Regions from separate parts of the Homo sapiens genome. Here all the other regions are linked to region 1. The links come from fine-mapping of genetic effects on gene expression. A gene starts in region 1. Each other region holds a variant in brackets. All regions are shown on one strand. Distances are from middle to middle.

Region 1 (5,067 bases):
CTCAAGGAGAGAAGCAAATCTCCTATTTTAATTTTTTTTTTTTTTTTTTTTTTTTGAGACGGAGTTTCGCTCTGTCGCCCAGGCTGGAGTGCAGTGGCGCGATCTCGACTCACTGCAAGCTCCGCCTCCCGGGTTCACGCCATTCTCCTGCCTCAGCCTCCCGTGTAGCTGGGACTACAGGCGCGCGCCACCATGCCCGGCTAATTTTTGTATTTTTAGTAGAGACGGGGTTTCACCGTGTTAGCCAGGATGGTCTCGATCTCCTGACCTCGTGATCCGCCCGTCTCGGCCTCCCAAAGTGCTGGGATTACAGGCGTGAGCCACCGCGCCCGGCCTCCTATTTTAAATTTTATACTAAAATGTATTTACATTTGAATAAATTACCTATAGCTGTGTATTATTATGTTTTGATAGACAGTAAATGATAAGACTAGATCTTAAAAGGAAAACCACGATGGAAATGTTTAAAATATTTACTGAGGTAATAGAAAAGAACTTCAATGTTGGGTACATTAAATACTGTATTTTGTTAGAAAGTATAATCTATAATTAGGCACAGTAAACGTTTGAATAGGTAATATATTTCTACTACAACTGATTACCAATGTGGATGATAAAATATGAGAGAAAAATAAAATGACTTCTTTCTTAGGTTTCCTACCCTTACCCACTCACACCTAGACCTCCCCGCTGCAACCACTTGCGCTTCTCAGGAAGTGCCACGCTCTTCTAAGTGCTGGTGATGTGCACAGTGCAGCCCCTGCCTGGAACTCGCTGCTCCTCCCTGTTTCTGCCTAAGCCACTTCACCTATCCTCCTCCAGGAAGCCTCCCTGATCCCCTCCTGTGTGCTGGCATCTATCATTGCATTTTTTGGTATCCACAAGAGACTAACAATTCTTTGATGACACAATTATTCCTGTCTCTCATTGTTTTTTATATCGCAGTACATGGCACTTAGCTAAGGTACTCAATACAATAAGTGAATGAAAATAGATCGTAAAATTGACTTTTTTTACAAATAAAAGGAGAGGCCGGGCGCGGTGGCTCATGCCTGTAATCCCAGCACTTTGGGAGGCCGAGGCGGGCGGATCATGAGGTCAGGAGATCGAGACCATCCTGTCTAACACGGTGAAACCCCGTTTCTACTAAAAATACAAAAAATTAGCCGGGCGTGGTGGCGGGCGCCTGTGGTCCCAGCTACTCGGGGGCTGAGGCAGGAGAATGGCGTGAACCCGGGAGGTGGAGCTTGCAGTGAGCCGGGATTGGGCCAGTGCACTCCAGCCTGGGTGACAGAGCAAGACTCCGTCTCAGAAAAAAAAAAAAAAAAAGAAAGAAAGAAATAAAAGGAAAACCATGTCTAAAATGCAAATTTTGCACAATTTTATTCTGGCCCTCATAGGGTGTATTTTAAAAACACATTTGGAAGGATTTACTGGACATTGTCAATTGTCCATCACTATAAATATTTCACACCTCTGAGCCATGTAAATACGCTGTTACTTCAAATTGATTATTATTCAACGAATGCATAAACTCTGATGCTATAGTTGAATAATTATACATATAGAATAAAACCACTTCAAAACCATGATAAAAATCAAAAAGCACAATGGTAACTACAGTTTTGATAACTAGGTGCTCTCTAGCTCTGCCACTGGCTCCAATGGGGAGAAGCCATTTATCCTTTGGTCTCAGTTCCTCCACCCATGAAATGGGGGTAACCATTCCTGCCACTTCCTCCTCCCTTCGTATGTTGCGAGGAGAATGGGGGTATAACATCTGTAAGAGCACAGATCTTACAGATATTCACAATAAAGAGCTTTACAATAAAGACACTAGCTCAAAAGCAGTGCCTAACCCCAAAGCAGAGTTCCCGCCATCATTTAGGACGGTAACAACCCTCACTCCCCGCCGCTCTGGTTAGCAGGCTGATGCGGGAGGCTCCTGCATGAAAACTTTGCAGTCATACTAAAGGCCACATGCGTGGGCACAAGTTCCTCTCGCCGGTGCTTGGTCTGAACCAAAAGCCGCGAGGAACCTCGTCAACCCCAGCGGCTACGATCGCTCCCCTCCGGACCCGGGTACCCTCCTGCGGACTGAAACAGACCCCGGGGCTTTCCCCTCCTCCAAGTGGGGTCAGGAGTCCAAGGGCTAGCGCAGCAGGAGAAGGAGGAGGAGGAGGAGGTGGGACTGGAGGGCTCGGGCGAGGAGCTCACCTGGCCTCTCCGGCAGGCGCCGGGAGCGGGTGCGGAACGAACACCCCACAGTCAGGCGGCGCCGGCTGCTGCTTCTTTTTGGAGCGCCAGAGGTGGAAGGTGGTGTGCTTCTTAGGGGGCCTGCACGGGCTGGGCTCCCCGGGGTCGCCCTGGGCTGGCGGGGACAGCGGCATCGTCTTGTCCTCCTCCCGCTCCGACTGCCGGGACGCGGTCCTCTCTGCCGCCCGGGCCCTATGGAAGAACACACCTGAGCGCCAGCTCGCCCGCCTTTCTCAGCGCGCCGTGGGACCCCGCCCCCTCGTCGCGGATGCGGGGGGACGGCCGCGGGTTGCAGAACCAGCACCCAGCGCAGCGCGAGCAGCACTGCAGCCCGAGCTGTTGGGGCGGAGGCGGGGACCCAGCCGCGGAAGAGCGCCCCCGCGCGGCGCGGGCGGCAAGGGGCGCTAGCCCAGGTGAGGCGCTCGCGCCGGGAGCCCCAGGTGAGGCAGACACGCCCCGGCTCCCCACCCCGGGGGCGCGCGGCGGCCGTGGGACAGCGACACCTACTGGATGCTCTGGGCACCGCGACTCCCGACACTGCATCCCAGGCTCTAAGATGGGACCCAGAGCCGGGTCGGGCTTCCACAGCGCCTGGGGTGCAGCGGCCATTGTCGCCTGCGGAGTTGTTGGCCGCTCTTGGCCTGTGACAGGCTGGCAGGGTGAGTCGCTGCTTAGCCACGAGCCCCGCCTGGAGAAGGATGGGAGAGGCACATCCCGGGGCTGGGCCGCCCAGCAATTAGGACTCTTCCACTCTGATCTCTGGGTGGCTTGGGCAATGTCATGTGCTGGTGGCTTCTGTTCCTGTTCGTGAACACGGGTGGCAACTCCGCCAACTCGTCTCCTCTCTCAAGAGTCTGAATAATTAATTTGTACTCACATCTCATAAAACACAAAAGGATTAAAAAAATTAAAAACGCCAGAAGGGAATTAGGCATATTCCCCAATTCCCCAAGAGCTTAATAGATCCCTCGCAGTAAATTAAATGCCAGTCCCACAAGGTATTTACATCATCTGCATTACTGTTGATGACTTTCTTGTCTTAACTTCACAGTCGTGGCTAAATAGCAAAGGAAATTAATACTTAAGCAAAGTAAGTAAACGAACAATTATTTTGGGCATCATTAGAGCAAAGAAAGTGCAAGAACTAAGCACTACTTAAAAATTCAATGCAGTACAAGATCCTCTTTCACGGTAATGTCTTTATTTTCCTCTTTGAAAACACAACTCATTCATTCGTTTATTCACTCATTCAAGGAACATTCATTTTTATTTGTTTTTATTTACATTTTTATCAAGATGTAATTTATAGACAGTAAAATGCACAAATCATAAGGGTAAAACTCAAATTTTTACATATTTATGTGGTTGGGGTGTGAAAAGTTTTTTAATGGAGAGTTGACATTGTCCTAGAAAATTCTTCCGTATGTGGCTTTTAAATGTATGATTATAGGCCAGGAGCGGTGGCTCACGCCTGTAATCCCAGCACTTTGGGAAGCCGAGGCAGGCAGATCACTTGAAGTCAGGAGTTTGAGACCAGCCTGGCCAACATGGTGAAACCCCTTCTCTACTAAAAATACAAAAAAAAAATTAGCTGGGCGTGGTGGTGGAGGTGCGCCTGTAATCCCAGGTACTCGGGAGGCCGAGACATGAGAATCGCTTGAACCCAGGAGGCAGAGGTTGCAGTGAGCCGAGATGGCGCCACTGCACTCCAGCCTGAGCAACAGGATGAGACTATGTCTCAAATAATAATAATAGGTAAATATATATGATTATAAAAATATAGAATACTTTCAAAACTTTAAAAATCTCCCTACTGTCCTCTTCCAGTACATTACCCCTCCCACCTGTAAAAGTTAACCATTATTTCATCCTCTTTTGCTGGAGATTAATTTGACCTTTTCTGGAATTTCATTTTAGTGGAAAATCACAATATGTACTCTGTTTCTGGTTTGCTTTGCTCAATATTAGTCGGTGAAAATCATCTATATTGTTGCTTATATTGTAGCAGTTTTTTGTCTTGTTTTGTTTGAGACAGGGTCTCACTCTGTCACTCAGGTAGGAGTACACTGTTACCATCACCTCTCACTGCACTCACTGCAGCCTTGACCACCTGAGCACAAGTGATCGTCCCACCTCAGCCTCCTGAGCAGCCAGGACTACAGGCACACACCACAGGACCGGGCTTTTTTTTTTTTTTTGGAGGGGGTACATTTGTAGAGACTGGGTTTTTCCATGTTGCCTAGGCTGGTCTCGAACTCCTGAGCTCAAGTGACTTGTCCGCCTCAGCCTCCCACCAAAGTGTTGAGATTACAGGGGTGAGCCCCTGCACCTGACCCATAGCAGTTTTTCATTTAAAAAAATTATTGTATACTGTTCCATGATATGAATATGCCACAATTCATTTATCCATTATTGTGGATGGACATTAGGTTGTTTCCAGTTTGGGGCTATTATGAATAAAATTGATATGAACCTTCTGAGATGTACACATTCATTTCTGTTGGATACTTATACCCGGAAGTTCAATCGTTGGGTAATACAATATGCATATGTTCAGCTTTAGTGAATTCTGCCAAAAAAGTTTCCCATTTATATTCTTTCTAGCATGTTTGAAATTTCCAGTTTTTCAATATCTTCATCAACACTTGATATTAACAATCCTTTTCATTGTGGCCATTCTGATGGGGATGTGGTGGTATCACATTGCAGTTTTAATTTATATTTCCTCAAGAAACAGTTATTGAACTTATTGAGTACTGTACTAATTATGTGCCAGGCCCTGACTTGGGGGAGGAGGCAATGACAGATGCA
Region 2 (5,067 bases), 170 kb before region 1:
ACCCCTACACACACCCCGCCCCCAAAAAACCCAATATGCTTTCACCTCTGGGAGGATGGGTGCCAGGATTAGCCAGCTGCTTAAAAGAAAGATTTAAAAACAAATTACTCTCAACAGAATCTGAAAGGCAAGTTTAGTTAGAAATCACTCATTTCCTCAAACAAGAATTTGACCAGACAAGTAACACCCTTATTTTGTGTATGAGTAGAAGAGCTTAATCTAGAGTGAATGGGCCCTGGAATAAATCACCTAATGGATTCTTAAGGAGTTCCCTCTACAGCAAAGACTTCTTATCCCAGTTCAGGGGAACCAGTGCATCAACAGAAGCAAAATGAGCTTCAGTACTTACTATCAGTGACATCTTCTCAACCCCTTGAGACTTTCCTTTGAGATCTATAAAAGCACTAATGACCTGGTGTCTAAGCTCACCAACCAAGTTCAACGAGCCCAAACTTTGAATTAACATCTGAGGCAGTGTTCAACAGAAATGAACAGCCAGAAAAGAAGATGCTCACCATGACACAAACCTGTCATAAATTGTAAGCTGTGACAGGCTGGTAACTACCACCCAGGAGGCAAAGCTAAACTTACTGCAAAGGTAAGAAATATCATTTAAGGTAGATTAATGTGCTTCAACATAGCCAAGCCTGAGTCATGGCACCTTCCAGACACTGAGATTAAAATATGATAACAGATGCCTTTTTCATTCTTTTCTAAGGAAAGTGGTGTTTCTCAACCTGACACCAATTCTTTAAAAAAAAGTGTATAGACTTCTTTCATGTAAAAAAATTAAAGGCAGCAAGAGATGAAGGCATTTTCTTTTGCTTAGATTCCCACTTTTCTTCCCAGTCTCTAAATACAAAAGTGCCTTCTCTTCCCTTAACTACACCCACTCCCCTTTGGGACTGTGTCCTGTGCCTGGTTTAAATACATTCTCTTTGCCAGTGACTCCTAAATTTATGCCTCCAGCCTCTCCCCTGAACTCCAGCCTCACATAGTCACCTTCTTGCCCACTTACTTGAATTTGCAGTTGGCATCTCAGCCTTAACCTGTCCAAAACTGAGCTCCTGAATCTCACTCTCTCTCCTATCCTGCTCCTCCAAGTCTTTTTCGTCTCAATAAATGTTGGGGTTCCAAACCCTGGGCATGTCTTGGCCCCTCATACCCCACACACAATCTGTCAGAAATGCTGTTAGTTCTACCTTCAAAATGCATCCAAGATCTGACCATTTCCCACCACCACCATCGCACGTCTAAGCCACCATCTCTTCTTGGCTGTATGATTGCAAGTGCATCCTACGTGGTTTCTTGGCTTCCACCTTTGCCTCTTTACAGACTATTTTCTATACGAACAGACAGGCTGATCCTTCTATTAATAACACAAGTTAGATAAAAATTCGCCAATGATTCTCCATGCCACGTAGAGTAAATCTAAATCCTCCTCCCCAAGGCGTGAAAGGCCAGATGTGACCTGAGCCCTGTCTTATCCCTATCCTCCTACTTCACTCAGCTTCAGCCGCCTTGGCCTCTTAGCTATTGCCCAAGCATGCCCAGAAGGGCTTTTGCAAATGGTGTGCTTCCTCTCTGGGACAGGCTCCCTGCCCCTCTTCCCTCAGCTAGCTCCAGGGCAGACTCCCTCACTTCCTGCCGGTCCCTCCTTAAAATGTCACCAGAGTCCTTTACTAGCTACCCTATCTAAAATAGCAACATGCCTGCCCCTCTGTAATTTATGTTTCTTGTAGCCTTTGCCATCTGACACATTATATATGTATTTGTGTTGTTTATTCCTGCTAGACTGACAGCTCCAGGAGAATGGGGACATCATTTTATGTCTTCACTGCTGTATTCCCAGTGACTAGAAAAGCACCTGGCACATGGTAGATGCTTGATTAACAGATTTACTGAATATATTTAATACATCTCATAGACACTCTTTTGGGTTTATATTTGTTAAAGTCCCAATTTCTTGTCATATTTAGACAGGGTATGCAGAGGAAATAAAAGCCTTTCCTAATTTCTACTTCTAAACTAACCACCTTTAAAAATTTCAGAGCCTTTCAAGGACTACGGGGTACCAAATGATATAACTCAAAATGTACACAAAAAACAGTACATTTATTTAAAGAAGATATACAAATGGCCAAGAGGTATATGAAAAAATGTTCAACATCACTCAAGATCAGGGAAATGCAAATCAAAACCACAATGAGATACCACCTCACTCCAGTTAGAAAGGCTATTATCAAAAAGACACAATATAACAAGTATTGGTGAGGATGTGGAGCAAAGGGAACTCTTCCACACTATTGGTGGGAATATAAATTAGCACAGCCATTA[T/C]GGAAAACAGTATAGAGGCTCCTCAAAAAATTAAAAATAGAACTCCTGTGTGATCTTGCAATCTCACTACTGAGTATATATCCAAAGGAAATGAAATCAAGTATGTCAAAGGATACCCGCACTTGCATGTTTCTTGCAGTGCTATTTGTAATAGCCAAGATACAGAATCAGCCTGAGTGTCCATCAACAGATGAATGAATAAAGAAAATGTGGTAAAAATATATAATAGAATAAGTTCTGGTGTTCTATTCCACAGTAGGGTAACTATGATTAACAATAATATATTTTATATTTCAAAATAGCTAGAAGAGAGGATTCTGAATGATCTTACCACAAAGAAATAATACGTGTTTGAGGTGATGGATTTGCTAACTTCCCTGATTTGATCATTATGCAATGTATACAGGTATCAAAACCTCACATTGTACCCCATAAATATGTGCAATTATTATGTGTCAATTAAAAATAATTTAAAAAGCAGTAAAATGTATACTATCCTTGGAAAATAACTTTATACATCAAGAGGAGATATTTAAATTAATATTGTTCTCTACACCCCAAATTCTGCCCTAGTAACTACACCTTTGTATATTGACGAACCATCACTATAGTCCTCCCTTGTTATTTTCTCACTCTTCTGGGAGAGGAAGGTTGTTTTCTGAGACGGGCTGCCATAGGGAAAGAATACCATCGGGCTTCTGGGGTGCTGGTAATGTTCCAGTTCTTGGCTCAAGTGGTGTCTACTTGGGTGCTCACTTTATTTGTTTAAGTGTACATTTACCTTCTGTGAACTTTTTTCTAGGTGTCTTATATTTCAAAATGTTAAAAGTAAATAAATAAATGAACAAACTGTCGTAAAGGAGGTACCTAACTCATACTTTCCTTTCCCTACAAAGCTCTGGATAAATTCTTGTCCATCCTCTACCTGAGTACTCCCTGCGATGAGAAACTCTTTACCTAACAAGGCAGCCCACTTCCATTTTAACTGTATTAACCATCAGAAAGTTCTTCCCTGGGTCAAGTCAAAATCCATCTCTCTAATTTCTACTGGTTTTTCCTGGGACCTCCTATGGAATAACAGAGAGCAAGTCTAATATCTCTTCTATATGACCACCTTCCAACTATTCAAGGATAGCTGCTACCAATTCTCAATAGCCACACTTCCTGTTAAGTTGCCTAGAAGTTTTTAGTTTCTCATTTCTGAGGATCAAAAATCAGATTCTATGATCTGTAATTTATCCTATTCCTACCTTTTACACAAGCAAATTATTTTTCTAAGATATGAACAATGGCAAACCAAGGCTTTTAGTAATAAATAGAATGCAAAAAGCATGATTAAGGAGTGCCTTATTGTTCACTGCAGAGATACTCCATACCACTTTAGGGACAGGCTGTAAACTTTTTTGACTGTATAAACCATTAGTAAAAACATTTGAGCATTCTCTGAATATATGAATATTTATAAATTATATACATTACCACTGAACTAATACATTATGCATATTAGAAAACATATACAAAAATAAAATCTTAAGAGGTGGAGACTTTAATCAAATAGAAAGAAGCTTTAGTGTTTTTTCCTGCATCTCAGTGAATGTCTTTCACATGCCTTGGGGCTTTGTGCTTCACTTTGGAGACCACATTCTTCAGTATTGCAGTCTATACTTTCTATCCTCATTTCTCCCCTATCTGAGGTATTCCCATTTCCTTCAAAATATTCTTGCTGTTTCCTGTGATTTGTGAAACCAACCTCCTAGGGGCTTTGAACCAGCATTGTGTGAAAATATTCAAGGAAGTACCATGTGTGTTGGCTTCCATCCCCCCCCAGAAATATCAGGGGCATGTGCTTTGAATTACCTCCTCTGAATCACCATGAAAATATAATCTGCTACTCAGCTTTGAATAAATCAGATTTCTCTGTGACAAGGAAAGCCTTACATTAAAAAATTCAATCCCCCCCCATTTCCTATAATAAATCGATACTGTTTTTAAGACAGATGAATCATAACATAGGTGCAAAAGAATCAGAATTTTACGTGCCTTATAAAAATATACCTTACAGTTAATAATTACTTAACAGGATGACAAATTAGAGTCAGAGTATCTTAAGTCCTCTTTTTCCAGTACTACACTCACAAAAAAACTTCATTAAAATTTGTTTGAAAAAAAAATACTTACGTGCCCCAATGTACTTTCATGGAACAAGTCTTCTGCATTACACCAAATCCCTGCATTTCTTCAGTATCATCAAAGTAGGAACTTAGGATTCCTAACCCTTCTGGTTCAGTAAATAAGTCAATGTGACTAACTCTGTAATCCTGAAAAAATATAGATGCATAGATAGTAAGAATTGCACCATGTATTTCACTCTCTAGTAAGCTCATTCTTCTTCTTCTTACAACTAATCAAAATGAGCTTTAAATTTACAAACACATTTCACAGAGCACCTGCCATTTTAGCCCTTTCCTGTTTTCATCCATGAATTAATAATACACCTATTTCGGGGCAGACACACTTGCTTTAGTTATATAACTCAGTGTTGCATTCAAGCAAAGATCATCAGAAATGTATTTTATTTGAGTTTTGGAATATATTTCTTTTTCTCATCCTCACTTGGTCCTCTTTGGTCTGGGGTTTTGGTTCCTTTGCTCTGATATAATTATCCAAGCACAGAGACTCTAGTCTGTAGAATGGCTGCTCTTGGAGTCTTCCTCAGCCACTGTTTTGTGT
Region 3 (5,067 bases), 300 kb before region 1:
CTAAGTGGTTTAAACACCATATTCCAAAACCTGAATTTTATAAAGAACAAATACTGGCTGGGCCTGGTGGCTCATGTTGTAATCTCAGCACTTTGGGAGGCCGAGGCGTCGGATCACAAGGTCAGGAGTTCGAGACCAGCTTGACCAACATGGTGAAATCCTGACTCTACTAAAAATACAAAAAAATTTAGCCGGGCATGGTGGTGGGCGCCTGTAGTCCCAGCTACTGGGGAGGCTGAGGCAGGAGGAGAATCTCTTGAACCCAGGAGGTGGAGGATGCAGTGAGCCAAGATCGCGCCACTGCACTCCAGCCTGGCGACAGAGCAAGACTCCGTCTCAAAAAAAAACAAAACAAAACAAAACAAATACTTGTTTTCTATTAAATTTCTTCCTACTTTAAATATGGCTCAGAAGAAGAACTGCTTCCATCCAAGATAGAGTAATGGAGATGGGATTTACCCTGTGCTATGGTTTGAATGCTTGTCCCCTCCAAAACTCATGCTGAAATTTAACTGCCACTGAAACAGTATTAAGAGATGGGGCCTTTAAGAGGTGATTGGGCCATAACAACTCCACTCTTGAGTGGGATTGGTGCCATTCTAAGAGGGAAAGTTCAGCCCCCCATGTGCTTTCCCTTTCTCTCCCTCTTTTTCTCCCCACCCTTGCTTTCTGCCATGTGTGGACATAGCAAGAAGGCCCTCACCAGGTGCTGGCTTCTCAATGTTGGACCTCCCACCCAGCCTCCAGAACTGTGAGCCAGTAAATCTCCGTTCATTATAAATCACCCAGTCTCAGGCATTCTGTTATAGCAGCAAAAATGAACTAAGACTGCTTCTCAGAATAGGGGATTAAAAAAAAAAAAAGAACTAAGACACTCTGCCTTCTTAAACAACTAGAAAACTGGACAAAATATATGAAATGACCATTTTCAGGCATTAGGCAACAGACATTCAGGAGAAAAAGTTGTGAGAGAAGAGAAACAAATGAAGTAAGCCAGGCCAGGTGTGGTCCCTCATGCCTGTGGGGTGGCTGGGGGTAGGATTCCTTGAGCCCAGGAGCTTGAGACCAGCCTGGGCAACACAGGGAGATCCTGTCTCTACAAAAAAAACTACAGTAGTCCTAGCTTCACGGGGGGGGTGGGGAGTGTTGAGGGTTGCTGAGAAGAGCTTGAGCCTGGGAGGTCGAGGCTGCCAGTGAGCCATGGTCATGCCAATGCACTCCGGCTTGGGTGACCAAGTGAGGCCCTGTCTCCAAAAAAAGAAAAGAAAAGAAAATGAGATATGCCCTTTGATTTCCCCAGCTTAATGCCTAGGGGCAGTTTTCAGGCCTCATTCCAGAGAGGAAGCTAAACAGTATGTGGGGTGGGGGGTAAGTTAAAGGGACAGAGATCTGAAGTTCAAGGAGGCAAAGGCAGCTAGAATTTGCAAAGCAGGGTGCTGAATAGAAGGGAGTGGCACAAAGAGAGAGCTCAACAGATCTGCAGGGAGATTCCTTGAGTCTCTGGCTGAGTACTGATCTATGAGTGCATGAGAAGAAATTCCCAAGGCTGGGGAAACAATCCCCAAAGAGCAGTGGACTGAACAATTCCTAGAGCTCAAACAGGGACGGAAATAAGTTTGTGTTTCGAACAGCCAAAGCGAAAGACTCAAATATATGCAGCATCAAAGCATCACCTCAAAGTAAAGTAAAATTAGCCCTGGAATAAAGGCTGCTTTGGATTTATCTTAACAAAGCTTTAAAAGAAGCCTTGAAAAGAGCCAACAAATTCCAAGCACCTTTATTGCATCCTGGGAAAAAGCCCAACACTGTTTAAAGGAATATAACAAAAGTCTAGCAAATGACAATGTAAAATTCACAATATACAGACATGAAAAGCAGCAAAAAATATGACCCATAACCAGAGAGGGAAAAAGCATTAATACACACAGATGCAAAAATGATGGAATACTGAGTAGATAAGAACATTAAAACAGTTACTATAAATATGTTTTTTTTTTTTTTT[G/TG]GAGACAGAGTCTCACTCCGTCACCCAGGCTGGGGTGCAGTGGCACAATCTTGGGTTACTGCAACCTCTGCCTCCCAGGTTCAAGTGATTCTTGTACCTTGGCCTCCCGAGTAGCTGGAATTACAGGCATACGCCTTCCCACCCAGCTAATTTTTGTATTTTTAGTAGAGACAGGGTCTTGTCATGTTGGCCAGGCTGGTCTCGAACTCCTGACCTCAAGTTATCCACCCGCCTTGGCCTCCCAAAGTGCTGGGATTACAGGTGTGAGCCACCGCACGCAGCCTAAATATGTTCTATATGTTCAAGAAGGTAGAAGAAAATATAAAATAATGAAGAAATTGAAGGGATAAGAAGACCTACATGGAACTTCTAGAGAAAAAAATATAATGTATAAAAAATGTACTGGAAAGAATCAACATAACAGAAAAAAAGATCAGTGATTCTGAAAACAGTAATGGAAACTAGCCAAAAGGAAGCAGAGAAGGAAAAAAGACTGGGGGAAAAAAAAAGAATGTAGTGTCTGTGAGCTGTGGGACAACATCAGGCAGATTAATATACATGTGAAGAGAGTCCCAGACAGATGGAGGACAGAAAAAATATTTGAGGAAATAATAGCCAAAATGTTCCAAATTTGATTAAAACTATAACCCAACAGATCAAAGCTGCTTAACAAACCCCTATGCAGAAGAAGAAATATGCAGAGAACCACACCAAGGCACATCACAGTCAAATTCCTGAAAACCAATGATAAAAAGAAAATCTTAAAATCAGAGGAAAAAAAGATACATCATATACAGAGGAATGACCATAAGAATGACAACAGACTTCTCAGAAACTATGTAAGCCAGAAGACAATGGACAAAACCTTTAAAGTACAGAAAGAAGAAGCAACCTATACTTTTTTTTTTTAAAGAGATGGGCTCTCGCTCTGTCGCTCAGGCTTAAGTGCAGCGGTGCGATTATAGCTCAGTGCAGGCTCTCACTCCTGGGCTCAAGCAATCCTCCCACCTCAGCCTCCTGAGTAGCTGTAACTACAGGAGTGTACCCTGTGCCCAGCTTAACCTACATTTTTAAACCCAGAGAAAATATCTTTCAAAATTAAAAGCAAAATAAAGAGTTCTACATATAAACCAAAGCTGAAAGAATTCACTGCCAACAGGACTACAAGAAATATTAAAGAAAGTTCTTCAAGTAAAAACAAAATTATACCAGATGGAAATTTATATCTCTAGAGCAGAGAGAAAAGCACCAGAAATACTAAATATGTAGGTAAATATAAATGACACTATTTTTCTCATTTTAGATCTTTTTAAGAGAAAAATTACTATTTAAAGAAAAAAAAGCAGAAGAAAAGGTTAAAAGAAAAAAGAACAGATGGGACAAACAGAAGATAAATAGCAAAAGGTAGATATAAATGTGTTACATAAGTAAATATTTATGTCAATTAAAAATAAACTCTTCCTGGCTGGGCATGGTGGCTCACGCCTGTAATCCCAGCACTTTGGGAGGCTGAGGTGGGCGGATCACGAGGTCAGGAGTTTGAGACCAGCCTGGCCAATATGGTGAAACCCCATCTCTACTAAAAATACAAAAATTAGCTGTGTGTGGTGGCGTGTGCCTGTAGTCCCAGCTACTCAGGATGCTGAGGCAGAAGAATTGCTTGAACCCAGGAGGCAGGGTTGCAGTGAGCTGAGATCGTGCCATTGCACTCCAGCCTGGGTGACAGAGTGAGACTCTGTCTCAAAAATAAATAAATAAACTCTTCCTGGCACATAAGTTGACTTTTTAAAATAAAAAAAGTATTCCGAATCCCATTTTTCCTATCACTTTTGTCTACCCAAGTTGACCCAACTTGGCACTGACTCAGGAGCTAGGGATACCAGCAGTAATTTTAACTTCCTTTTATCAGAACCCCCAAATGGTGATCATGAGGAATGCTTTCTGACTTCTCTCCTTCAATTTCTTTTTATGCTGTTACATTGACCTATATAATTCATCAACTTGTGCCCTGAGATAAACAATATGGTTCTAATCAGTAATATTTGGCAAAAGTAATATCTTTAGCTTAATAAATGTTTTCACTTAGAAAATTATTTCCTTTTGTTTTCCTACTCCAAAGTCATTACAAGCATCTGGTCAATATGGTAACAGTCTTTTAATCTGGAACATAACCAAATAGTATTCTTTTTTTTTTTTTGAGATGGAGTTTCACTCTGTTGCCCAGGCTAGAGTGCAGTGGCACGATCTTGGCTCACTGCAACCTCTGCCTCCCGGGTTCAAGTGATTCTCCTGCCTCAGTCTCTCGAGTTGCTGGGATTGCAGGTGCCCACCACCACGCCCAGCTAATTTTTGTATTTTTAGTAGAGACAGGCTTTCATCATGTTGGCCAGCTGGTCTCGAACTCCTAACCTCAGGTGATCTGCCCACCTCGGCCTTCCAAAGTGCTAGGATTACAGGCATGAGCCACTGGGCCCGGCCTCAAATAGTATTCTTAGAAAAAGTAATCCTGTGGCCTGGCATGGTGGCTCATGCCTGTAACACCTGCACTTTGGAGGTTGAGATGGGTGGATTGCTCGAACCCAGGAGTTGGAGATCAGCCTGGGCAACATGGCAGGATCCCGTCTCTACAGAAAATACAAAAATTAGCTGGGCATGGTGGTGCAAGCTTGTAGTTCCAGCTACTAGGGAGGCTGAGGTGGGAGGATCACTTAAGCTCAAGAGGTCAAGGCTGCGGTGAGCTGCGATCACTTCACTGCACTACAGCCTGGGTGACAGAGTGAGACCCTGTCTCAAAAATAAAAAGTAATTCTAACTATCGGCCCTGAGAGGATACGCAGATGAATAAAATGCCTTCTGCCCTTGAGGGCATGGAGAAAAACTCCAAGAAGCTCTTCATTACAATAACCAATCTTGCTTTTTCACACTTCTCATGTCCTCTTAGACACACTTGGTGGTATAGAAGATGAAGCCTGTTCACAAGATCGTGAATAAACTCATAATGAAGACAATTGAAGGAGGAGTCATAGTCATTCTGAATTCTTTTTTAGAGTAAAGACATACATAAT
Region 4 (5,067 bases), 160 kb before region 1:
CTCGTATTATATACTTAAAACAAATAAAAGATAAATCATTTAGCATACCAATTACCACCTAAGTTACTCAGAAATGTTGACTCAGGAAGTAAGCGATGCTTTCCTCTGCCAAAACTGTTACTCATCCTTACTCATTCTCATGTAAGAATGTTCCTTTTCTCTGTATTGCATCTTGACACTCGTCTCCATTAAAACTTGGGATTTTAATTTTCTACTTAGAAGACATCATTAATTGCATTTTTAAGGTAAAGAATCATCAAATCCTAAGAGCCACAAAGAAAGACTCTGACAACACTTTCCTCATCAAATAACAAGAAACCAAGAAATTTTACCTCACCCATAAAGTGGCCTCAAATAGAGTAAATAATATTTTGTTAAACCCACATGAAATCCCAGAGTTAATCAACCAAATTATTTTTGGATTATTTATTTTTCCAAAATAGAATTCCTATAAACCACTCAAAGTAATCAGAACTCATACAGCAAACAAAAACACTAAATAAATGAAAAACCTGTTCATAGAGGCAGAACTCATTTAAACCAAGTTACCAGGTAAAATATATTTGGAAGATGGGAATAGAAGGACAGGCATAAAAGATCTACCTAAAGGGTTTATTGTGAAAAATTATCTAACCAATTATGTTTCTTTTTAAATTATTTAAAGTGTACAAATACTTAAAATACAGAAAATATATCCATAAGGCACCAAATATGTTTCCCAATCACATATTTCGTAAAATGATCATTTCCCTTAAAGTAAGAATCCATAAATATTAGCTGAATAAATAAAATCCATATTTACCACAACCTACCTGAACCACATGTCTGATGGAACCAATCACCACTGGCTTATCAGACTCTGCTTCTTCGTGCCTTTCCAAAATGTCTTCTATACCCCAGAGACCAGAGAGTTCCAATTCTCCTTCTTCTAAGGGGATGGAGTGCCCTTCAAAATTTGGTTGCTCATACAAAATCCAACTAACAATAAAACACAGCAAAACCATTAGTCAGTCTTCGTGAGAGAGGTTTTGATTACTCAAATAACCTGGCTAATTGCCATTTTATATATATATATAGAATATTAGCAGCCAATTATCTAGCAATTAAAATAGCTTAAACTCTCCCTAACACTAATATTTTACTGGGTATAATTAAGCCTCTGATAACTCATGAACTATATCAGGATCTTAGAGAACTTTGGAGTTACCTATATGAATGCTATAGAGCTACTAATGTTCTAAGTAATTGCCAAGTGGTAGAGACTTATGATAATATGTCAGATAAATGGATGTTTACTGTACTAGGTTTTTTTTTTTTTGTCTCTTTTTTTTTTTTTTTTTTGGATACAGAGTCTTGCTCTGTTGCCCAGGCTAGAGTGCAGTGGTGCGATCTCGGCTCACTGCAACCTCCGCCTCCCTGGTTCAAGCAATTCTCCTGCCTCAGCTGCCCTAGTAGCTGGGATTACAGGAATGTGCCACCAAGCCTGGCTGATTTTTGTATTTTTAGTAGAGACTGAGTTTCCCCATGTTGGCCTGCTGATCTCGAACTCCTGGCCTCAAGTGATCTGCCCACCTCGGCCTCCCAACGTGCTGGAATTACAGGCATGAGCCACCATGTCTGGCCTTTTGTCTCCTTATATGTGTAGAAAACATTTCTCTTAGAGAGACTTTAACTTACATATTACAGTCATATCAATGAATATGTTGGCACAAAAGACTATAGATATGGTAATGGAAAGCATTTTAATAATATTCTTCCCAACAACAGCCAAACACTAAAGAAAAACCTCATGTCAATATATGGCAGTGTAAATGCTTATGCTTTCAAGAAAAAGAAGCCGACAAAAGTTGCAAAAGAAAGGAAAAAGTACTGTTCCATAAAAACAAAATTTGTGTAAAAAATTGCCACTATTATATATTGTATATTAGTGGCCAATTCTCTAGCAATTAAAATAGCATTTGTCTTCAAATTTAAGAATAAAAGCAAATCTTGTTTTTCTCATGACTATGTTGGATATATAGGAAAAAATATTAAAACACCTAAAAATCTAATAGGAAAGCTGCTGCATATTTAATCAAATGGAGACCAAAAGAAAAGCTTATGAATTTGTAAATCCATAAACATTCAGAGGTCTACCCTCTTTACTTCAAACAAGTTTACAAGTAGGCACCAAAAGATAACTATTATGCCAGATCAGCGATTTCTTTTTTTAAGCTGCCTTTCTCTACCCAACTTCCTGTGTATCTCCAAGAGGCAATGAAGCTGATAAAATGATTTCAGAAACTGTCAAAATATTTATTTTTTTCACCAGTTTCTTTACTTAGCCAAAACAATCTTTTGTGGAAATATTGGAAAGTAAATTAAATTTTAAGTTAGTGCTGCATTGAACTGTCATTAAAAAGTTAGAAAAATGCCTTTCTTTATAGATTATTTTTGTTTTACCTTATAGATTTTTTTTCCTTATTGTTTCTTTACTTTGCCTTTTCCTACGTGTTCTCAAGTTTCCTTATAGGTTTTTGAAAAGTCGTATCTGGCCTATCAACATAACTAGTGCAATTCTTATCAACCTCATTTAAAGGTCATCAACCAAGAGTATGTTATGGGCCCTGATATATGACTAGTCCAAAACAATATTATGGGGAAGCATGGGAAAAAGAAGCTTGTTCTACTGTATTGTTCTGATTTTTCTCCCATAAACATATATCACTGCTATAATCAGAAACATGATTTAAAATGACATTGTTAAGATATGAATCCCTTATCTTACCACGAGTAGTATTTCCTGTGCTTTTCATTGCTAAAGCCATAATTTTAAACTAGTAGTGAGGACTAAAAAGTTAATTA[A/G]GTATGTAAAACTCAAACACTTGACATCAGGAACTTAAAGTGCCATTCTTACCATCCTCTAACAACTTTTATGAGTATCACTGGAGAGAGGCTCCAAGAACTGCAATCCTGAATGTCACTGAAAACTTCAATGCACTTCTCAGAGACGTCGGGTTCACTATATATCACTACCTGCAAGAAAACGAAAGTGGTAGCACACTTTGTTGTACTCTGTCAGACCAAAATAGAATCAAGACTAGAAACAGAAAATAATCTTACCTTTCCAGGTCGGGGATTGAGTTTATTTTGGACACTTCCTCTAAGTGTCTGCAATCAGATGAACAAAAACACAACAAATAATTACAACTTCACATAACGATCCTCTTTTTCCACCCACGATCCTGTAGGTAGATCACACTTTTCCCACATTGTATCGATTTTGAAACCTCCACTCTAATGGATGCTAAAGTTGTATTAAAACTCTTTGAGTTTATGCTTTTAAATTGAGGTTTTTTCACCTCTAACTGAATTTGCCATTTCAATTTCTCCTAATTTAAATGTCTAGGCTATTTCCACCAATGCTAGAAAATTCAGGGCACATATGTTTCATGTCAGTTCACAGAATAGGAACTCAGCTAAGAGATTCTAATTCAAATAATATCAGTATCATCTCAAATAAAGATAAATTAGAATATATTAATCACTTACCTAGAAAGAGCTGAATCAATTTTGTGTTCATATACATACCCTATCTGAATCCATATAAATATTGTTTTCTCATAGTAAATCTACAATCATATAACAACCACTAGTCTAAATAGAAGTGTTTATGGTATATATGGTATATTTCATAATGTACATTGCACATAGTATATTTAATCCCCCTTTTTTTTCTTTTGAGATGGAGTCTGGCTCTGTCACCAGGCTGGAGTGCAGTGGCATCATCTTGGCTCACTGCAACCTCCGCCTGGGTTCAAGTGATTCTCCTGCCTCAGCCTCCCGAGTAGCTGGGACTACAGGCATGTGCCACCAGGCCCAGCTAATTTTTGTATTTTTCTTTTAGTAGAGATGGGGTTTCACCATGTTGGCTAGGATGGTCTCGATCTCTTGACCTCGTGATCCGCCTGCCTCAGCCTCCCAAAGTGCTGGGATTACAGGTGAGAGCCACCGTGCCCGGCCTAATCCCGCTTTTTTGATAGACAAAATACATTTCAATATGGCTCCAAAACTAATCATTTTCAAGACCATCTGACAAGACCAGTAAAACCAGAAATGCATAAGATAATAAAATAGTAATTATACATGTAAAAATATTACAAAACGTGAACTACTTTCAGTGCTGACCAGGATGCCTATTTTAGGAACTGCCTTTGCTCTGACTGCTCTTGCATCACACCAGAGTGTGATATGCCCAGAAGACCACAAAAGGCTGGGGCGCAGTGCCTCACACCTGTAATCCCAGCACTTTGGGAGGCTGAGGTGGGCAGATCACCTGAGGTCAGGAGTTCGAGACCAGCCTGGCCAACATGGCAAAACCCCGTCTCTACTAAAAATACATAAATTAGCTGGGCGTGGTGGCACTCACTTATAATCCCAGCTACTTGGGAGGCTGAGACATGAAAATCGCTTGAACCTGGAAGGCAGAGAGGTTGCAGTGAGCTGAGATCATGCCACTGCACTCCAGCTTGGGTGACAGAGCGAGATTCTGACTCTAAAAAAAAAAAAAAAGGCCATAAGGGCCCCCCTAGAGCCTTATCAGAAGCCAGATGGTATATACCTATTTATGTATATATACACATTAGAAGTAGATAAACTGAAGAAAAAGCCTAAAATTTAAAACAAAATTCAGGTAAAACCTTCATGATTGAATATACAATCAATAAAAGCCCAGGACCTAAAGAAAGACCATATTTTTTAATCATAAAAAGGCCTAGAAAAAGTATAAAGATTTTATTTTTCCTTTTTATGTCATTTGACTTGATTTTCATAGGGAAACTGTATATTCTGTTATCAACTTTGTCAGACTGTAGTTAAATAAGGAAAGCGATCTAAGAACAATTAAAAAGAACAAAGTAGTAATGAATGGGAAGTGGACCAGTGGAAATTTTGTGCTTGAGAGAAATAGTTAATATTTCTATTATATAACTATTAATAGAAATAGTTAGAATTTTATGATTTCTGAGTACCATAGGCTGATTCAGTCTTATTTGTTTATAGCAGTGGTTCTCAAAATGTGGTTCAGAG
Region 5 (5,067 bases), 140 kb before region 1:
AGCAGAAGAATTGCTTCAATCCAGGAGGCGGAGGTTGCAGTGAACTGAGATCACATCATTGTACTCCAGCCTGGCTGACGAGCGAAACTCCATCTCAAAAAAAAAAAAAAAAAAAAAAAAAGTGACAAGAAATCTAATAACATTTTGAGTAAAGTGATGTTTCTTATAAAAAATAAATAAATAAGTTTTCCTATGTTTCCCACCTTTTCATTCCCCAGTGAATGTAAGCTCCTTGAGAACAGGAAAAATGTTCTGTTGCCTTTCCAACAGCTAGCATGGGGGACTGACAGCTAGAGGTGGACATAAAGTATTTGCTGCTACTAAAGAATTAGTAACATCCCTCCTGCCTTTCAAAAAAGGAGTTGTCAATGCTCTTGGAGACAACTAGAAACATTGTTCTAAACAAATCAGAATGAAAATCTTATCTGCCTAAAACTTAGTGTGGTCAAGACTTGGCAGCTTTATTCTGCCAGAGTGAGGATTCCACGTGTTGATGGAGCTACCGGTGCACAGGTTTACTGCAGCCTCTCAGCCCAAATCTGACTCAGGAAAGTGGAACAAAATCTTGTTACATGTACTCACCTGTGCATCCTTCTAAAATGTGGTCATCAATGTACAAAAGTAACTTTTTTTTTTAAACACGTGTGATTCCCTAAGAGCTCTCACTTTGTTGATTTCTGAAAGATACCTTAGCTTTTCAATTCAGCCACATGGGAATGAGTCAACTGGATATTACTGTAAATGATAGGATTGGCCATGTTACTTGTTCACAACATATGCATATGTGTGTTTGTGCTAGTGAGCAACTTTTTTTCCTGAGCAGTTTTTTTGTAAAAAAAAAAAAATAGCATGAGTTGTGTGGCTTAAAAATATAGGAATTTGAGCTACTTTACACTTCAACTTTAAAAGTTAAAATAGGGGTTAGAAAATTCTGTTCAATAGAAGCAAGAAAGACTTTAGACTCGTGACAGCTAACTAAAGAACGAAGATGGGGAATGGGGAAGGGGGAGAAAAAGGAGAAACACACACAGAAAAACAAGGCCAGGCATGGTGGTTCACGCCTGTAATCCCAGCACTTTGGGGAGCTGAGGCCAGCGGATCACTTAAGGTCAGGAGTTCAAGACCAGACTGGCCAAGATGGTGAAACTTGTCCTACTAAGAAATACAAAAATTGGGCCGGGTGCGGTGGCTCATGCCTGTAATTCCAGCACTTTGGGAAGCCAAGGTGGGCAGATCCTGAGGTCAAGAGATCGAGACCATCCTGGCTAACATGATGAAACCCCGTCTCTACTAAAAATACAAAAAATTAGCCGGGTGTGGTGGCACGTGCCTGTAGTCCCAGCTACTTGGGAGGCTGAGGCAAGAGAATTGCTTGAACCCGGGAGGCGGAGGTTGCAGTAAGCTGAGATGGTGCCACTGCACTCCAGTCTGGCAGAGCAAGACTCTGTCTCAAAAAAAAAAAAAAAAGTTAGCCAGGTGAGGTGGGGCATGCCTGTTGTCCTGTGCCGGAGGATCACTTGAACCCAGGAGGTAGAGGTTGCAGTAGCCAAGATTGCACCACTGCACTCCAGTCCATCTTAAAGAAAGACTTTTATGAGACATGATTCTTTTTTTTTTTTAATAACTTCCAGGATATTCATTCTGAAGACTTTTAGAATTAAAGTTAAAATTGTATTTTCCCATGATAAGTGTATGGCAGAATATCATCTCAGTATCAGAAACACCAGGCAGATGAAGTTAAGTTTAAGGGAGGATCCACATACAGATCCCTGATACCACAGACATTGATTTGGAATAGGCATTAAAAATAAATTAACTATCCTCCCCACCTTTCCGTTTGTGTTTTCCTTTCTGATATTGATTGGGATAATATATGTGGCCTGTTCTATACACACACACACATATACACACACACAAACACACACACGCACAGCAAAAAGAATAAAGAAATGTTCACATAAATGAACTCTGATCTATTAAGCACAGAAGCTTTTCATTTTAACTTTTAAAATATTTTCTATTATATATGATTCAGTTACCTAAGAGTATACTAGATATAATTTAGCTACTTCTTTATGATTCTGGAGACAGAACTATGAACCTCTGTTACTACATTTGTGCTACAATAGTGATTTCTTCCAGGGCTGTTAGAAGGAGTGAAGACTACGGCTTACACTAAATGACCCACAGACTGTAACACTGTCTGGTAGTAAGCAGATCTCTTATGAAAAGGTATATGAAACTGTGACATTTGGCCATTTTTGATCTACAGTCCAATTTCATATGATATAACCAATAATCCTTGAGGTTAGGGCTTCAGAACCTTCTTCTCCGATGTCACTGCTCCCAGTCTCCCGGGGTGGAATGTCTGCTTGCCCCATGCTGCTTCTAATATTTGTCACCACTTCTAGTGCCCACCTCATCTCTGATGCTATTTTTCTTTTTTTAAAAAAATCTTTTTTCTGTCATTTCAACATAATGTAACACATACCTCTCTACTTACACCTCAATGGTTGTGGTTTTTTTTTTTTTTTTTTTCTAATGCTGTCACTTCAGGCCAAACAATAATATCATCCTGTTGGGTACAATCAAAGGTATACTATTGGGTGAAAGAATAGTGACAGACTTTTTAACTTCCAGATTAACCTGTGTCCTGAAAAAGAGGTGTCACTGAATACAAAAGCCATCAATTATAAAAGTTAATTTATAATTTATAATTATAATTTCATTCTCCCAAAAAGCTTCTTTTAAAAAGCAGACTCCCAGTTTCGGGTTGGTATTGTCTTTAAGTCATTTATACTTTGACAGAGACAAAGTGAAACCTAATTGTTTCAAGCCATCGACACATGATC[A/C]ATCAGAAAGGAAGATAAAAGATAAGATCATGGAATGTCTGAATTGTAGGATCATTTACTCATTCATTCCACTGATAATTATTGAGTGTCTACGTTGTGCCAGAATTTTCTCCGCACCTTAAAGAGGCAACCTGTGGCCTGTAGAATCGAATTATTTTTTCTAAGACATAAGTCAGGCTTTCTAAAAGGTAGCTCAGTATTTTTTCTTGTTAGAAATTATAATGTATCATTAGAAAAATAAGACTTTACTAGAATGATTAATGTGTCACTTTTATGAAGGCATGGCTTACATGCTTTCTCCTAGGCCATGCAGTACAGCAATGGATGTGATAGCATAAACAGCCAATGAGCCCTCTCTTGTGATGGAGCTCTGTCTTTAGAATCCAGGTAATTGTAGATAGAGTGTGCTGGATCTTTCCGTAGGCTCACCCTCCCTCAGCCTTGTCTGCGCCCCAGGCTCCCAGTTATGATGGAAGGTAGAAACTGACTTTCTTGTCCTTAGGATTTGGTTAGGTTCAGCCAGTGGGAGGCCCTGATTTCCCCCCTAATCTCTCCATCTCTTAGTTGGGCTCTGGGTTGGGTGTGGCTGGGTGTGACCAGGGCTTCTGCCAGGCAGCCCACTTCCGCCGCTGTTCTCTCTCCCCATATTCCCGAGCCGCTTTCCCCTCTTGCTCCTTCAGGCCTAAGATGGGAAAGGACCTCACCAGGTGCCAGATGGGAAGGCTTCATTAGCTATTGCTTGAGGTAGAATGAAGTTTTGTGGGGCATGAGGCATATGTTATTTTGAGAGTTTTCTTTAAGACAAAGAACACAAAATTCTGGCTTATAGATTTTAAGGAGAGGGCCTTGGAAGAGGCCATGTGAAAGAAGAACCCTGAAGCCTAAGGTTTTTTTTAGCCCTTCTTGGCTTCCTTAAAACCTCGCCCACACTTTGTAAATAGTCCTTCACTACTTTCCTTAATTACACAACTTGAGTGTGCTATATGTTTCCTGTGCTGGGATCCTGACTAATTCTACTGTGTGCCTAATTATGACTAACAAGTACCCCAGAAGGTTTCTCTACCTGTACTTTGAATAGTCTCCCCAACATTCTCTTTTTCTCACAAAGCTATCCGGCTGAATTAATTTGCTTTACAGTTGAGATGTATTATCCTAATTCGGCGATTTTTTTTCTTATGCATAATGTGTAATTAAAAGGAGATAGAGTAGTTTGAAATTTATAGCAAAAGTATTTCTTATTCTACCTCCTGGATTATATGCATATCCTGATTAACATAATCAAATTACTGACAAGTTAGTTCCTAACTAAAATTTAGCCAAACTGGAAAATGGAAATGTGTTCCTTGTGAAGTCATCAAATCAGTTCCTTTTTATTAACTTGTAACCCAGAAAGTACATTCCTTATGCAATTTAAAAAGAATGACTTGTGCAATAATTCATGTCAAAGATCAAGAATGGTTACTTTAAAGCACTTAAAAGCCACTGGTGAGTCTCAGAATCTAAGTACTAAAGAACCAAGGACTAAACTTCAGTTGGGTCATCCATGTATAAATGATATGATGCAGGAGATGGTGATTAAGTTGGGGGAAAGAGGGTGAAGCGGCCCTTGGAGACAACTAACACAGCCTGCCTGCCCCGACCAGGCACAGCTACAGCCAAGTCAGAGGCCCTGGGGCTGACTGGGACCCAGAAGAGAAATGAGAGCTGGAGAAGAGGAACAGACAAGCCTCTCCAACACAGCACGGACTCTAGCTAGGCTGGCTCTGAGACTTCTAGTGACCTTGAGACCTCATAACTTCAGGTCAGTTTAGCCATGTTTGTAAGTGTGGATTTAATAGTGGATTTATTTCTAGAAAATGGAACAATCTTTATCTTTCCAATTAATATACACTGCCCAGAAATGTCTTAGTTTCCTGTAGTTTCTAGTGAGAATTGTTGACTTTCTACCAACACTTTGCAAATTAAGAAGTAGATTTCACACTTCTATGATCAGAACTCAGGAATACTACTAAATGGGATCAAATCACTTATTCTCTCAAAAGTTGCACATCTATCATACAGGGTACTGAGAAATTCATGTGAAATGATACATGTGAACATCTTTTGAAAAGCACAAAGTAGCCTATGACAGTGATGGCTGGCTTTATTAACAGTGCGATATTTTGCTGATGTTTTGCTCAAGTTAAAATTATAGAAACTAAGTAAGTAACACAAT
Region 6 (5,067 bases), 190 kb before region 1:
AATATAACTCCTTACCAAACATATAGGTTGAACAGAAGAGATCTTACAATTTTTGCCTCCCCAGTCCTCAAAACTGGTATAAAATCCTTTATCCAGTATATACTGTTCTCCTGTGAAGTCAGGATTTTCATAGGCTACCCATCTAAGAAACAAAAGCAATCACTTGTTGGAGTTCATATTTTACATATAAAACGATCACATATTTGGATATCTATGTATCATACAGAAACTTTCATTTGTTTTGCCAATTGAAATTTTAATTTTTCTGATTCTCCATTAACCTTTAGAAGCAGATGGGTTTGTCTATAGGACAAATCAGAATGGTAAGCCAGCAGAGAAGAGGGAACATTTATACACTGCTGGTGGGAATGTAAATTAGTTTAGCTGCTGTGGAAAGCAGTTTGAAGATTTCTCAAAGAACTAAAGATAGAACTAGTATTCAACCCAGCAATCCCATTACTGGGATATACCCAGGGGAAAACGAATTATTCTACCAAAAAGATACTTGCACGTGTCTTGTTTACTGCCACACTATTCACAATATCAAGATGTGGAATCAACCTAGGTGTTCATTGATCAATGGTGGATTGGATAGAGAAAATGTGGTACATATAAACCATGGAATACTATACAGCCATAAAAAAGAATGAAATCAAGTCCTTTGCAGCAACTTGGATGCAACTGGAGGTCACTATCCTAAGCGAATTAACACAAACAGAAAATCAAATACCAAATATTTATGAGCAAGAACATATACTTATGAGCATGTTCTTGCCCATAAGTGGGAGCTAAACATTGGTCATGCATGGACATAAAGAAGAAAAAAAAATAGGCCCTGGGGACTACAAAAGGGGCCAGGAGGGAGGGGGGTTTGAAAAACTACCTGTTGCATGCTATGCTCAGGTTGACGGGTTCAACCGTACCCCAAACTTCAGGAAATCATGCAATATACCCATGTAACAAACCTGCACATGTACCCCCTGAATCTAAAATAAGAGTTGAAAAAAAACTTAATGCAAAAGAAATGGTAAGCGTAAGGGTATCTTGACATGAACTTTTTGGCGTTCTCGCTTATCAAATACTATTTCTTGAGAAAGCTACAAAGGCAATACTTCTCTGTGCTTTTTTTTTTCTAATTGTATTCTAAGGAAACAAAACAAACAGGACTTTCAAGAAGAACCTAGTTCTTTTAATAAGCAATCAATAAGTCCTTTCATTCTCAACCTTAAAATATTTTTGCAGAAAGATCTTAGGAAGCTGTGTCTATTACACAACAAACCACACTGAAAAAGAAGTTAACAGAAGAAATGCTTTTAAAAATGCAGAACAGAACTAAAATATTGTTTCCAACAGTGTTTCCAACATCACATAAATATGTAAAAATTAAATAAACAAAATTGAGCAAACTCATAGAAATACTAAAAATAAATCTCTTTTGGAATGTTTTTTTCTCTTTTAAGTGATCTACACCCAGAGGAAAATCAACAAAACCAATTTAATGATGCTATTTCCTATGCAAAGATAAAGTCTTTGAAAGGAAAAGGTTTTTCAGTTCTGTTATATTAAAGAGATACTTAATACCATTATATTGAAGACATTAAGTATCTTTTCAATTAATTCATCATTCTCATGATCCTCTCAAAGCTTAAAGGAATAATATCTATGTATGTATTATGTAGGGTGATCAGAACTTTGCAAAATGTTTCCACATCTGTTATCACATTTAATCTCCTAGGGAGGTATTGGTGTTCCCATTTTACAGATGGGAAAAACCTAAGACACAGTAAGTTAATTCATTTACCAGGTGCCAGGAACTAGACTGGCACTAGATATACAAAGATGAAAAAGACAAAATCTCTGTCCTCCAAAGCCCACAGATGGGTAAGCAGCATCACATGGAAGTATTTGTTGGTATTTGTTTTGAATGGGAAATGACTTGTCCAGGGTGACACAATCGACTATTGGCCAGAACGTGACTGAACCTACCTGTCCTGAGGCCCACCAGGCTCTCCTTGCTTTGTGAC[C/T]CAACCTGCCATGTGCCCTGGAAAGTTCCCTTTCATTTACTGTTCTAGTAAACCATGCCTAAAACAGTCCACACACTTTATAATTAGAGCAGATTATGATTTTACTATCCAAAGGGCTGATTTAAACAAAAACTCAAGTACAGTAATTACTAGAATATGAACAGCCATCAAGGAAAAAAAGAACACTGCCAAAATCTCCAGTGAGAAGTAGCTAATAACAGCCAACATCTGTGCACTCACTCCCAGCCATCCAAATGGAGAAGCTGCTATATGCACCACTCAGTCTTTCAGGAAATACAGCCCCCTACCACCCCCCATCCCCCGATTTCAGAACCTCACTAGCAATTTTTAAAACCTGTTCTTTTTTATTTTTATTTATTTTTTATTTTTTTTAGTAGAGTCAGGATTTTACCATGTTGGCCAGGCTGGTCTCAAACTCCTGACTTCAAGTGATCCACCCACCTCAGCCTCCTAAAGTGCTAGGATTACAGGCGTGAGCACTGTTCCCGGCCTAAAAACCTATCCTTTATCACTGAGAGGTGAGGAGATAGGAGACCTGGCTCCACCTGTGGCCATGACATTAACTTTCAGATAACTTTGAAGAACTCACTTAACCTTTGTGAAAGTTTGTATTTTCAAGTGTAAGTAGGAGAGTGGGCCAAGGTCCCCGGGCTGACCAGGTGATGCTGTACAGCACACGGGTACCCGCATGTGCTGCCTCTGCCCACAGGGCCTCAGGCTTTACCCCCAGCATGAAAGGAAGCAACAGTAAAGCCAGAGCAGGGAGCACTGCTATGTGGGAGGAGTGTCTGCACATCAAGAAAATCTACATGACTGGATTAAGAAAATGTGGCACATATACACCATGGAATACTATGCAGCCATAAAAAATGATGAGTTCATGTCCTTTGTAGGGACATGGATGAAACTGGAAACCATCATTCTCAGCAAACGATCGCAAGGACAAAAAACCAAACACCGCATGTTCTCACTCATAGGTGGGAATTGAACAATGAGAACACATGGACACAGGAAGGGGAACATCACACACCGGGGACTGTTGTGGGGTGGGGGGAGGGGGGAGGGATAGCATTAGGAGATATACCTAATGCTAGATGACGAGTTAATGGGTGCAGCACACCAACATGGCACATGTATACATATGTAACTAACCTGCACGTTGTGCACATGTACCCTAAAACTTAAAGTATAATAATAATAAAATTTAAAAAAAAAGAAAATCTACGTTACAAACACTAGGACTTTAAAAAAACAACGAACAATTAAAGAAGTAGAGCCACATCAAAAAAAGGGTTCTCACCAGGGCTCCGAGTCTGTAACAAGTAGAGAGATAAGAGGGTTAAAGGCCTTTCTGTTTGACTTCAAGGTTTGGAGGGAAAAAAGACAGTGAGGTGGGAGGCTGAATGCCAAGGAGAGAGGACAGCCCTGGAAGCAGCTTTAGCCAGTACTCTGTTCTTTTTACTAACAAGTATGGGTACTGTATTTTCCTATGAAACTAAACTACTTGTAAGTAAATACCCAACACCCAGCTAAGCCTATCTCTAATTCACTGAAGCTGAAGCTGGAAAACAATTTATTAAGATGTTACTTGAACTGACAGTAGTGTTGTTTTCCCTCCAAGATACCTGATGAATCACCCATGAATGGGGGGAGTGGGGGAGGGGAGAAGCCGCAAAACCCAGATCTGAGATTCTCTGCTCTATGATCCGAGAGTCTACTTACAACTTACACTTGGGGCTCTTAAGAAAATCCCTCCCTGTCCTTGTCCAGATGTATTCTGTACACATGAATCAACACTCCTCTGTTTAAAGACTGGTGGGGAGACGGGGGAAAGGCATGTACACAAGTACTAGCAGGTCCCAGCCTGGTGGAATAATTGCTCAGAAGATAAGGGCAGCAGGGTAAACCTGCCCTTCCGTGGAAGGCCAAAGGAAAAAGAATTTAAAACAACAACACTTTTCGTTTTCATCTGAATACCAGAAATATTTCATTTTGCTCCTAGTTTTAAAAAACTAGCCCAGTTTCCACTATTTGAGCAAGAATATAGCATAGAACTAGAAACTGATAAGCAGGGAGTTTCTTTCGACATTTCCAGTAAGAATCAAATGCAGTTCCTAAAAACCTCAGTTGCTGGTTTCATGGGCATCCTTCCTGAAGGCTGTTCTCTGTTTCAGGACTAATGATGAGTTTACTGCCCAGGGGATGTATTACCCATGTGATGGTGAGCCTCCTGGGAGATACTTTCATGGAACAAGAACTTCAGAAGAGTTTTTTTCTGACAATGCATGCCATAATAAGAAATAAAGAACCAAGCTAAAATACTTAATTGCCAATAAAAATAAAGCCATTAAAATACAATAATTTTCCTTTGAAACTATTTAAAGTGAATAGGTAGTCCTCCTCCATCATCTTGGCTCATCTCAGCCTTCCTATCCTATCCCACAGGCCTAACTCCAATGCCACCTCCTCCACAAAGTCTTCCTTCCCTGTGTCCAGACTGGAAATTAATCTCTCTCTGCTGTGGATTCCCAGAGCATTTAATCTGTACCTCTTTTGTAGCAATAATTATGTTTTACATAAATACCGTAACTTCTTTGAGGACATAATACAATGCTTTGCACATAACAGACCGCAATAAATACTTGTCAAATGACAAATCGAACAAAATATGAGGAAGCACCTGGCCCTGGTAAATACAAAAGCCCTTCCATATGCAAAGAATTTCAAAGGAAGTGGTGTGTGTGTGTGTGTGTGTGTGTGTCCACGTATGTGTACGTAGCTCCCTTCAACTTCCCCCTTCTACCAAAACTTAACTGCTACAGCCAGAAAAAAGAAGCTTAAGCCAGGAAATGCAATTAGAAATGACTAAAAATAGAAACATATAATAGCAGCACTTTATAAAGGGAACTGATTTCAAGTAAGCAAGGCCTGGGTTAAAAAGGAAAGGAGATTGGCTCAAGGCACAATAATTCTACCTGTGTTAATAGCATCATCTACAAAATACCTAAGGGAATTCATTCTA

The links. PIP is the estimated chance that this variant, and not a neighbour inherited with it, causes the effect. A credible set is the group of variants that fine-mapping cannot tell apart.
Region 2: its variant is the best candidate, but not a certain one, in a credible set for the expression of CRYBG1 in whole blood (GTEx, PIP 0.77).
Region 3: its variant is the best candidate, but not a certain one, in a credible set for the expression of CRYBG1 in prefrontal cortex (BrainSeq, PIP 0.55).
Region 4: its variant is the best candidate, but not a certain one, in a credible set for the expression of CRYBG1 in testis (GTEx, PIP 0.64).
Region 5: its variant is the best candidate, but not a certain one, in a credible set for the expression of CRYBG1 in unexposed skin (GTEx, PIP 0.71).
Region 6: its variant is the best candidate, but not a certain one, in a credible set for the expression of CRYBG1 in whole blood (INTERVAL, PIP 0.50).

The regions. Positions count from the first base shown.
Region 1 is chr6:106,358,232-106,363,298 of GRCh38, reverse strand. CRYBG1 (crystallin beta-gamma domain containing 1) reads right to left here and starts at 2,582. Exons shown (of 22, transcript NM_001371242.2): 1 at 2,218-2,582. The coding sequence starts at 2,390. RefSeq lists silencers at 2,472-2,551, 2,572-2,781 and an enhancer at 1,710-2,576.
Region 2 is chr6:106,529,764-106,534,830 of GRCh38, reverse strand. CRYBG1 (crystallin beta-gamma domain containing 1) reads right to left here. Exons shown (of 22, transcript NM_001371242.2): 8 at 4,516-4,655. Among named protein-coding and RNA genes, the nearest start is that of RTN4IP1, 97 kb to the left of the region's middle. The variant T/C (reference allele first, on the strand shown) is at 2,338.
Region 3 is chr6:106,656,401-106,661,467 of GRCh38, reverse strand. The region is part of intron 9 of QRSL1 (glutaminyl-tRNA amidotransferase subunit QRSL1); the gene reads right to left. Among named protein-coding and RNA genes, the nearest start is that of QRSL1, 29 kb to the right of the region's middle. The variant G/TG (reference allele first, on the strand shown) is at 2,003.
Region 4 is chr6:106,523,216-106,528,282 of GRCh38, reverse strand. CRYBG1 (crystallin beta-gamma domain containing 1) reads right to left here. Exons shown (of 22, transcript NM_001371242.2): 5 at 3,103-3,150; 6 at 2,897-3,015; 7 at 813-978. Among named protein-coding and RNA genes, the nearest start is that of RTN4IP1, 100 kb to the left of the region's middle. The variant A/G (reference allele first, on the strand shown) is at 2,845.
Region 5 is chr6:106,501,501-106,506,567 of GRCh38, reverse strand. All of the region lies in intron 2 of CRYBG1 (crystallin beta-gamma domain containing 1), which reads right to left. It overlaps LOC101927405 (a long non-coding RNA gene), which reads left to right and starts at 4,347. Exons shown (of 3, transcript XR_245566.4): 1 at 4,347-4,653. The variant A/C (reference allele first, on the strand shown) is at 2,853.
Region 6 is chr6:106,546,927-106,551,993 of GRCh38, reverse strand. CRYBG1 (crystallin beta-gamma domain containing 1) reads right to left here. Exons shown (of 22, transcript NM_001371242.2): 14 at 16-142. Among named protein-coding and RNA genes, the nearest start is that of RTN4IP1, 80 kb to the left of the region's middle. The variant C/T (reference allele first, on the strand shown) is at 2,025.